Linked DNA regions of Homo sapiens: region 2 is linked to region 1. Evidence: fine-mapped expression QTL. A gene starts in region 1. The other region holds a variant in brackets. All regions are shown on one strand. Distances are from middle to middle.

Region 1 (5,544 bases):
CTTGTAGAGTTTCATCTAGGAGGAGGAATCAACAAAGAATGAGGAGAGGCAGGCATGGTGACAGGAGAAGCCATGAGGATGTGTCAGGAGGGATGTGCAAAGAAAGCATTTAGAGGACTGTTCAACTTTTTCAATGCTGCAGGGAAGTGAAGTAATGGAAGAGACATGTGACTATTGGGATGAAACAGGCAGGACATCAGTGACCTAAAGCTCAGTCTCTATGGCACCAAGGGGGCAGAAGCCTAATAGAGTTGGTTGAGAACAGAATGAGAGGTGAAGAACTGAGAGTCAGTGGCCAAAGAAAATGCTTTCAAAAGTTGAGTTGTGAAAGGAAACAAAGAAGTTAAATAATAATGGAAAGGCTTAAGTGGTCAAGCAAGGATTGTGTTTTGTTATAAAAGGAGTAGCAGAGTATATTGGTGAGTAGTAGAGTATGTTGGTGCACCAAAAAGGAAAAGCAGAGAAGGAAGAGAGAATAATGACACAGGAGAGAAAGGAAAAAATTACGGAAGTCTGTCTTTGAAAACGACACATGGACTGAAATTCAGAGCAAAATGAGGAGCCGTCCCTTCATAAGTACATACTTATCGTAAATACTATCTGGAAGGAAAGCAGAGTATCAGTAAGGACATGGTAGGATAGACATTTAAATAACAACAAAAAAAAGTGTAGATGGATGCTTTTTTCTTACCAGAGGAAAGGTGAGAGTAACTGGGGTTGAAAATTTGTGTATTTTTCACCAGCAATATTCAACTCTGGGGCAGACTGGGTGGATATTCGGGTTTAACCAGAACTGGAGTTGTTTTTATTTGTTTGTTTTTGGGGTTTTTGTCTTGTTTTGTTTTGATTTGTTTGAGGCAGGATCTTGCTGTGTCACCCAGACTGGAGTACACTCGCCTGATCTTAGCTTACTAGAGCCTCCAACTCCTGGACTCAAGTAATCCTCTTTCCTCAGCCTCCCAAGCAGCTGAGACTATGGGTGCCCAGTTAATTAAAAAAATTTTTTTTTTATAGACATGGCATATCTCTACTTTCCCCAGGCTGGTCTCAAACTTCTGGCCTCAAATAATCCTCCCATCTTGGCCTCTCAAAGTGCTAGGACTATGGGTATGAGCCACTGCACCTAGCCAGAGCTGGAGTTTTTAAGGAAAAATTAACACACATTGAAGAGGAGAAGTGTAAGAGACTAAGAGTAGACATTACATAATACAATGTTATATTACATAATGTAGATTCTAAGCTCGATAATGAGAAAATTAGATGAGATTAAGAACATGAAGAAGACATGGATTCAATATTTCCGTGAATTCAGGGAATTCTTGTGGTGGGAACTTAAGGTGGATTGGCAGGAAAAGAGGTGGGAAAGGGTGTGAGAGGACAAGTAAAGGGCAATTGTTGGTAATATTAGGCTCATGATATGCCCATTCTCTTTCAGTGTATAAAAGAAGAAATATAAACAAGGAAATAAAGACAGAAAATATTGTAAAATTCTTAAACCCTTCTTCTTTCTAAAAAAAAATTTCAGTATTAAAAAAGAAGCCAACAGAATTAATCTGCTATCCTTTCTCAAGATTTACAATGCTCATCATAAATGGATCCAAGATGTAACAGTGAAATTTCTGTTTATAGCAATGCTAGAATATTAAAGATGTTATATTCTGTGTGGGGAGAGGAGAGAGGACAACAACTTAAATAATATGTGAGAATTTTGGCACTCTTCTCTCCTTATTTTTCTGTTTCTATCACCCTTCTTTGTGTTCTCCACTATCACTGTTTAAGTTATTTTTAACTCAAATACACTGATTTAAACTATGGATTCGCTAGGGCAGATTTCACTCCCAAAAGGCTAGGAGCCAGAAGGCAAGAACCATACATAATAGGAAAACTATAGGATTCTGAGTAAGATGAAGAGTAGTTTTGTTTAAGTGAAAGTCAACACAGATGGACCACTTATTTCATGATTTTAATTTGAATTGAAAAATACAAAGTTACTTGATATAATGTGGTTTTGAATATTATGAATATATTATGTCTTCTGATATTTCTTTACCTCTTTTCTTCCTTTATTCCTTAATGATTCATTTCATTTAACTTAACATGTTTTATTTTTTAGTAAGTTAGTAAAAAATCTCCAAAAGAAGTAGGAGAAATTTTAGGGTGATTTATGCTTAGTTTGGTAGATAGTCAAATGAAATCCTATAAAGGTCTCTCTGTCTGACACAAAGCATTTTCTTATAAAAAAAAAAACACACACACACACACACATATGAAATCATGACTTTCCTGAACATGTTTCTTTTTCCATGGCTTCATCTCATAAAGAAATAAAATCTTCATACAACCCAATCATTTGAAAAATTCTGTCCCAATTATATTGAGTGTGATAATAAAAAATTTCAAAAATGTAAAAGATTGATTATTCAATGCAGAGATAAGTGTTTTTACAAAACCCTTTTTTCTAATCATTTTGTTCATACACTTTTTGTTCCTTTGCTTAAACATAAGAGACTTAATTGAAAATTTAAGTTGAATAGTAACTATATCACTAATATTGAAGATGCAAGTCTATAACCACTTCTATTATACAAACTTACAACACATCCATAACTCAAAATCTTACCTTTTTCCCCAAATTTGCCAATTTCTGGGATTTTTTCCATCTCACTGGAGTTCTGGAATTGAAGATCTGCATAAGTAACTTCTTCAGACATTGATGAATATGTAAAGAAATCTTGACAAAGTGTAAAAACACAAAAAGATGAGTGAGTTAACAGAGCTGAATGTTAAACAGGACCTATAATTTTAAACTTCTGTTTATAAACGGAAGCTTAAGCTTACAAGTTTAAACTTCTGTTTATAAACCTACTGTACCAATCACCCATATGTCTGCAAATGAGCCAAATCTCATCTGTGGCTTCAGTTAAGAACATTGAACTGTTGCAACAGATAACATCTTTCTTCCTCATATTTCTTCCTTTTTCTCAATTTCTATATATTTACCAACTACAGAAAGTAGTTTTTGAAATTGTGTTTGGATAACATCATCAGTGTCATGCAAGAGAACACAAATAACTAGCACCACATGGTGCAGACATAGTGTAGGATTTATTGGTGAAAAACTTTCAAGCAGAAAAATAACAGAAAAGATGCAGTTCTCAGACACTCACTAATCTGCAGCTGTGGCCTGGCATAGATATTCCTTTTGTATGATGATGAAGGTCCTGATAGAAGGGTTCTCTTCACTGGGAGACTGAACATACAGAGAGCACTCCCAAGGAGAATGAGACAGTTAGTGTCATTCCGTTGCCATGTTACATAGCTATAGGTTTGCCTAAGAGAGGTAGGGAATGCCTAGTTTCTCTAAATAACAATATATAGGTTGGTGCTAAAGTAATTCTGGTTTTTGCCATTAAAAGCAAAAGTAATTGTGGTTTTTGCCATTAAAAGTTTACAAAATTACTTTAGCGCCAACCTATATATTAAGGGATCTGATGCCCAGAAACCACACCAGAGAGTATGCATACTGATGGCCAAGGTCTGTATACTGAGGGCTCTGGAAACAGCTTTGCAGGCCAGGAAAACTATAATCAGCCTTGCTATCTCTCTACAGACTGACTCAACCATTTGATCTCCTCCTCAGCTAAGCTATCAAAAGTGGGAGGGAAATGAGTCTCCAAAGTCCAGATTTGTGTCTTATTAGTTTGACTCAATAGTCTTAGTATTTTTTATTTCACTTCTTGATCAAGAATGCAAGTGGAAGTGAGGGGGTGGAGAGGACTGTTTTTGAGCATGTTCTCTAATATTCGTTAGTAAATCTTACTTTAAAATTCTTCTTGACATTGCCACATGTAAATCATAAAATGGTTAGGTATTATTATTATACATATGAAAGAGAATGCATAAATATTTTTAAAAATCAATTAAAAACTAATTGCTTTATTATGTCAGGATAGACAGGAAAAACAAAATGCTCCCTTTATAAGAGCTACTAAAAATAAATAGGAAAATATTACAGATAGAAATTAACTAGATATTTGCATAACCAAAATGAACAAAAAAATTTTAAAACTATTGAAGAAAAGAAAAAAATAGAAAAACATGCTGTGGGATTAGAAGCGTCAATACTGTATAAAAAGAAACTAAATTCTCCTAAATGTATCAAAAATTCAATGTCAATTTAATTAAAACAACTGATTTTCTCCTGATAAAGAAAAAGCTATTGAATACATTTGAAAATATTACCATGAAAATATTGGCAGCCACATTTAAAGGAAAATATATTCAAAACATGATTACTTCATCCTAAGTACTTTACTAATGTTGCTTTTATCTTTACAACTCTCTAAACCAGGTGCTATTATTATCACCCTTATTTTACAGATGCGGAAGTGAGTTGCAAAGTGGTTAAGTTTGTATCCAACATCACACAGTTGGTGAGTGGTAGAGTTGAGACCATCAAAGTCTCTGGTTGCCTTGTTCAAATATGTGCACAGGCTATAAGGCCTCTCCTGGTGGGAAAGAGTAGCCCTCTATTTTTCCTAGGTGGATCAAATATTTGCATATAAATATTTGTTTATAAATATCTCTTTGTTTGTGAAAGGATGGAAACCGGCCACCACACAGGCAGAGTCCTGTTCTGTGTTCTATTGCTCTGCTGTCTCATGTGGAACGTTGTTTCATCAATCAACACTAGAAGATGAAGCGTATATGACGAACTGTAAAGGGAAACAAATGAAAAATCTCAAAGTCCTGTTTGCAAGGTACTCTATTTTGTTGAAAATATTTGAATAAGTATTACTTCATACAAAATCCTTGGTTTAGAGCCAGCTAAAACATTTATATCCACAAGAATAAGCTGAGCTCTGAGATGACTACATGGTTTGCCCTTCACAGCCTATATCAGTTTTTTAAAAATTTTGTTATTGATACAAAATAGTTGTATGTATTTTGGAGGTACATGTGATATTTTGAAACCTGTATACAATGTGTAATGACCAAATCAGGGTAATAAGAATATTCATTCCGTCAAACACTTACCTTTTCCTTCTGTTGGGAATAGTACATTTCTTCTCTTTTAGCTATTTTGAAATATACAATAAATTATTGTCAACTATAGTTTTCCCACTGTACTATCAAATACTAGAATTTGTTCCTTCTATCTAATTTTATTTTTGTACCCAACCAACTTATCTTTATCCCCCACCACCCCTTTCTAAGCCTCTGGTAACCACAATTCTACTCTCTGCTTCCATGAGATTCATTCTTTTAGCTCTCACATATGAGTGGAAACATGTGATATTTGTCTTTCTGTGCCTGGCTTATTTCAGTTAACATAATGACCTTCAGTTCCACTCCTGTTTCTGCAAATGACAGGATTTCATTTCCTTCTATGGCCAAATAATATTCCATTGTGTATATATACTATAGATACCTGCACTCCCATGTTTATTGCAGCACTATTTGCAATAGACAAGATATGAAATCAACCTATATCAATTTTCATTCTAGTTGAATACTAAGAGACAATCTGCAAATATAATTACA
Region 2 (5,025 bases), 26 kb after region 1:
TCCACAGGAGCCATCTTAATGGATGTGAGGTGATCTCTTAATATAGTTTTGATTTTAATTTCTCAAATGATTAGTGATATTGAATGTCTTTTCATATGTTTGCTGGACATTTGTTTATGTTTTATGAAGAAGTATCTATTCAAGTCATTTGACCAGTTTTAAATCAAGTTATTTGTTCTTTCATTTGTTTGTTTTCTGCTGCCCTATAGGAATTTGTGATATATTGTGGATTCTAATTCCTTATGAGATATGTGATTTCCAAACATTTTCTCCCACTTTGTAGGTTGTCATTTCACTCTGTGGATTATGCTCTTCGATGCACAGAAGTTTTAAATTTTAATGTAGTCCATTTTGCCTATATGGGTGGTATTGGTACCACTTCCTTTTTTTATATCTTGCAATGAGTAAACAACCTCCACACACACACACACACACACACACACACACTCACTCTCTTAAAAAAATATTTTGGTGGCCAGGCACGGTGGCTCACACCTGTAATCCCAGCACTTTGGGATGCTGAGGCTGGTGGATCATGAGGTCAGGGGTTCGAGACCAGCCTGGACAACATGGTGAAACCCCATCTTTACTAAAAACACAAGAAATTAGCTGGGCGTAGTGGTGGGCGCCTGTTATCCCAGCTACTCAGGAGGCTGAGGCAGGAGAATCGCTTGAATCCATGAGGCCGAGGTTGCAGTGAGCAGAGATCACACCACTGTACTCCAGCCCAGGCAACAGAGTGAGAATCCATCTCAAAAAATATATATATTTTGGCAATAAGACTGTTTTTGGTTATGTATCCAAATCCATTCTCTTCTTCTATATTTCAGGTAGAATCCTAATTTTGTCAGTGGAGAGCGAGTGTGTATGAAATTGTCTATATCTATATAATCTATATCTATATATCTGTCCCTAGTTCCTGTGCAGAGCTTCTAAAAATGGAATTTCCTGAACAGTAGGGGTGCTTAGGGACATCTTTTATTATTTGGTTTTTAACCTTGGTTCCTAACACAGAGTGCCTAACACCTTTGTAATTGCCAGAGTGATAGGAGCATCTGACACAGAGCTCCTAAATCCCTTGGAATGTTCTGGGCAATAGGAATATCTCTGGTTCTAATGAGGTGACTCTTGGTAGGCTCTTAAATGAAGGCTGGTTGCCAGAAAGACCAAGACATGGTTAGAAGCTTAGACATTTCACTCCTACCCCACATTAGTCACAGATGGGAAAGGGGCTGGAAAAAGAGTAATCAATCATGTCTACATGATGAAACCTCCATAAAAGTCCCAAAAATACAGGGTTACAAGAACTCCCAGGTGGACAAACACACTTATGTGCCACGAGGATGATGCACCCCAACTTTATAGGGACAGAAGCTCCTGCACTCTGGACCCTCTCAGACCTCCCCCAACTATCTTTTTATCTGGATGTTCATGTGTACCCTTTATTAATATCATAAACTGGTAAACATTGAGTGTTTCTCCAAGTTCTCTGAGCCTCTCTATCAAATTAATCAAGTGTGATGAGGGGTCGAGGGAACCCTCAATCTGTAGCTGGTTGGTCAGCAGTTCCAGAGGCCCAGACTTGACACTGGCATCTGAAGTGGAGGGCAGTCTTGATGGAGTGAGCCCTTGATCTGTGGAATTTGATGCTAACTCCAGGTGGATACTGTCAGAATTGAATTGAATTATAGGACATACAGTGGGTGTCCCCTAGAGCAGCAGTCCCCAACTGCTGCCCCAATAGGGCACCAGGGACCGATTTCAGGGAAGATAATTTTTCTACAGACCCTGGGGTGGGGGAAGATGGTTTCAAGATGATTCAAGTGCATTACATTTTTTGTTCACTTTATTTCTAGTATTATTACATTGTAATATATAATAAAATACTTACACAACTCACCATAATGTAGAATCAGTGGGAACGCTGAGCTTGTTTTCGTGCAACTAGACGGTCTCATCTGGGGATGATGGGAGACAGTGACAGATCATCAGGCATTAGATTCTCCTAAGGAGCATGCAACTTAGATCCCTTGCATTCACAGTTCACAGTAGGGTTTGCACTCCTATGAGAATCTAATGAGCAGCTGATCTGACAGGAGGTGGAGCTCAGGCAGTAATGCAAGTGATGGGAAGCAGCTGTAAATACAGATGAAGCTGCTCTCTCTTGCCTGCTGCTCACCTCCTGCTGTGCAACCCCATTCCTAACAGGCCATGGACTGTTCCTGAAAGGCCATGGACCGTTCCTGAAAGGCCATGCACCGGTACTGGCCCATGGCCCGAGGGTTGGGGCCCCCTGCCCTAGATAATTTATTGATTTGAGGAGAAACCCCCTCCCTACACATCTGGTGTAGGAGGTGAAATATTAAGAGTATTGTAAGAAGAAAACAATCCCCCCGCCCCCATATATATACTTGCTTCTATGAGGGAGAGGTTGATCTTATCTCTAATGATTTGGTTGAATTTAATCTAAGCCAGTCATACTGTTTCTATTCCTCTTGAAAGTTATCATCTTAAGAAGGAATATATGGTCTGTCAAGGTAAATGAAAAATGAGAGAAATCTTCTAGTTGAATTCTAGGAACTATTTTCCACTCATTAAGAAGATAGAGGCAGAGACTGGCATGGTGCAACTTCATGGTAAGGATCACTAAGGATTGCCAGCAGCCACCAGAAGCTGGAAGAGAGGTGTGAAGCAGGTTCTTCCTCAGAGCCTCTTTATTCCAGACTTCTGGCCTCCAGAACTGTGAGATACCACATTTCTACCATTTATAGCTTTGAAATCTGTGCTAATTAATTACTGAAGTCACAAGAATACATTACATAAATAAGTATAAATAATTCTTATGTATAGAATAAGGTCTATACACATACAATATATGCTTATACATGCATATGTATGTGTTTGTATATGTATTTGTGTGTGTATATATATGAAAATTTATATATATATATGAAAATTTATATATATATATATAT[C/ATATC]TCCAGGCTGGAGTGCAATGGCGGGACGCCGGCTCACTACAACCTCCGCCTCCTGGGTTCAAGCGATTCTCCTGCCTCAGCCTCCTGAGTAGCTGGGATTACAGGCGTCTGCCACCACACCAGGCTAATTTTTGTATTTTTAGTAGAGACGGGGTTTCACCATGTTGGCCAAACTGGTTTCAAACTCCTTGACTTCAGATGCTCTGCCTGCCTCAGCCTCCCAATGTGCTGGGATTACAGGCGTGAGCCACAGTGCCCGGCCGTATATGTATATTTTAAAGAGAATGTCTGTGGGGAGTAGGGTGTGTGTATAAACTTTACTTTGCGTGGTTCTAATATGCATAAACTTCACTTCTCACAGTTTAATTAAATAACTCCCCAACAGCACAGTTTAATTCTTTCAGCGTACTTATCTGTATTTGTATTATATTTACTGTAAGTAATTGTATAAAGTAGAAACTTCCATGCTAGTTTTTCAGTTCACGAATCACTATATACATGTTTGTATTGTGATTAACGACCAACCATGTCACTTTTTTCCAAGTCTGTCAATGATTGATTGGTCACCATGCATCTTTTATCAGTTAATACAGAATAAGATGGAGAGTTATTCTGTATTATTTTGTAAATGTCACATGGGTTTGTCACTGTATGACAAATTCCAAAGGAAATTTGAAACAGGAAGACAAGAAGAGGAAGGTAATTGAAACAGGAAATTGGTTAGTGACACAAAGTGCAGCAAAAAATGATGGCGCTGAAAGGGGAAATAAAATAGAAGAGAAATGAAGTTAGAGAAGCAATAGCTGTTGATAGGGTTATTAATAATTCACCTTTTGAAGAGTCTCTAGATAATGCAACCAGAGGAATTTAGTAAAGGCACACTTATTGACAAAAATAAGGTAAGTGGTTGTGATGAAAAGAATGAAGAGGTCCCAGAGGAAGTTATACGAGCTAAAGTGTTCACATCAAATGAACTCTCAATGTGTTTCCTAACATTTCAAGTGCAAAGAATAGTATATTGGAAGTCTATCCAAATTTAGGAATAAAAAAGCTTGAGAAGGCATCTAAAAGATGCTGGCTCCATATTGTAAGCGATAGAACAACAACAGCACGTACTCAATTCACACTACTCATTTTCTTTTAAGCAAAACACTTGAAACTCAGTGTTTTTAATGTTTTAATTATAGCATACTTTAAAAATATTAATTTTATTGTTGTTTACATTTCCCTATACGTTTATGAGTGACAGTAAAGTAATTTTCAATCAGGAAAAGAGGATAAAGGAAAAATCATACTTTTCCCTATTATTAAAATAGCTTGGTGTGATATCAGCTTGTGCAGTAATTTTTATTATCACACACTACAGTGCAAAATAAAAACTGCCTGTATATGAAACAAGCTTTCATTAGTTCCTATGAAAACATGTAAAAACAATGGCTTTGTTTTCCCACATTTTACTAAACACTCCACAGGTACACTTAGAACACAGTGGTTAAAAATGTAGAACAGAAAAAAGTTATTAAAAACAAGAAAATGGGGGCAGATCCACTTTGTGGCGTGAGAGAATGTGTACACTTTCCAGTGCAGGCAATTTATGTTATATACCTGTGTCCAATCGGAGATTTTTAGGGAGACAATATAAAGAAGCCGGAAAGGGAGGGTATGGGACTCCCCATTCTCTGCTCTGCGTACCAAGCAGGTGGGAGGTGAGGTGCCCATTAGGTTGAATTCTTATCGCTGTGCCCCAGCCAATCGTGGGCTGCGGAAATCATGGGCTGTAGAGTCATCGCTGCCGGGGCAGAGGCACCGTTGGTGCATGCCCGGCTGCCGTTGCTGCCCCTGCCTCGTACAAACGTCAGAGAAGGCACATGACACGCCCCTGGGGGCCATCTGGCCCAAGTCCACCTGCGCGGCTGAGTGGAGGATGCTAGGTTGCTGTGCTGTTTCTCCTACTGTCTTGCTGCCGCACCACCCCTCAGAAAAACCGGGTCGTCAGTTTCCTGCGGTTTGCACTCACCAAATATACTTAGCAATTTGCAATTCACCCGCA

Evidence for each region.
Region 2: its variant is fine-mapped to the expression of CLEC12A in whole blood (INTERVAL, PIP 0.98).

Annotation. Positions count from the first base shown.
Region 1 is chr12:9,968,764-9,974,307 of GRCh38, reverse strand. It overlaps CLEC12A (C-type lectin domain family 12 member A), which reads right to left and starts at 2,899. Exons shown (of 6, transcript NM_138337.6): 1 at 2,621-2,899. The coding sequence starts at 2,711.
Region 2 is chr12:9,943,258-9,948,282 of GRCh38, reverse strand. LINC02470 (long intergenic non-protein coding RNA 2470) reads left to right here and starts at 4,788. Exons shown (of 5, transcript NR_104634.2): 1 at 4,788-5,025. CLEC12A-AS1 (CLEC12A antisense RNA 1) reads left to right here. Exons shown (of 3, transcript NR_135047.1): 3 at 1-146. The variant C/ATATC (reference allele first, on the strand shown) is at 2,976.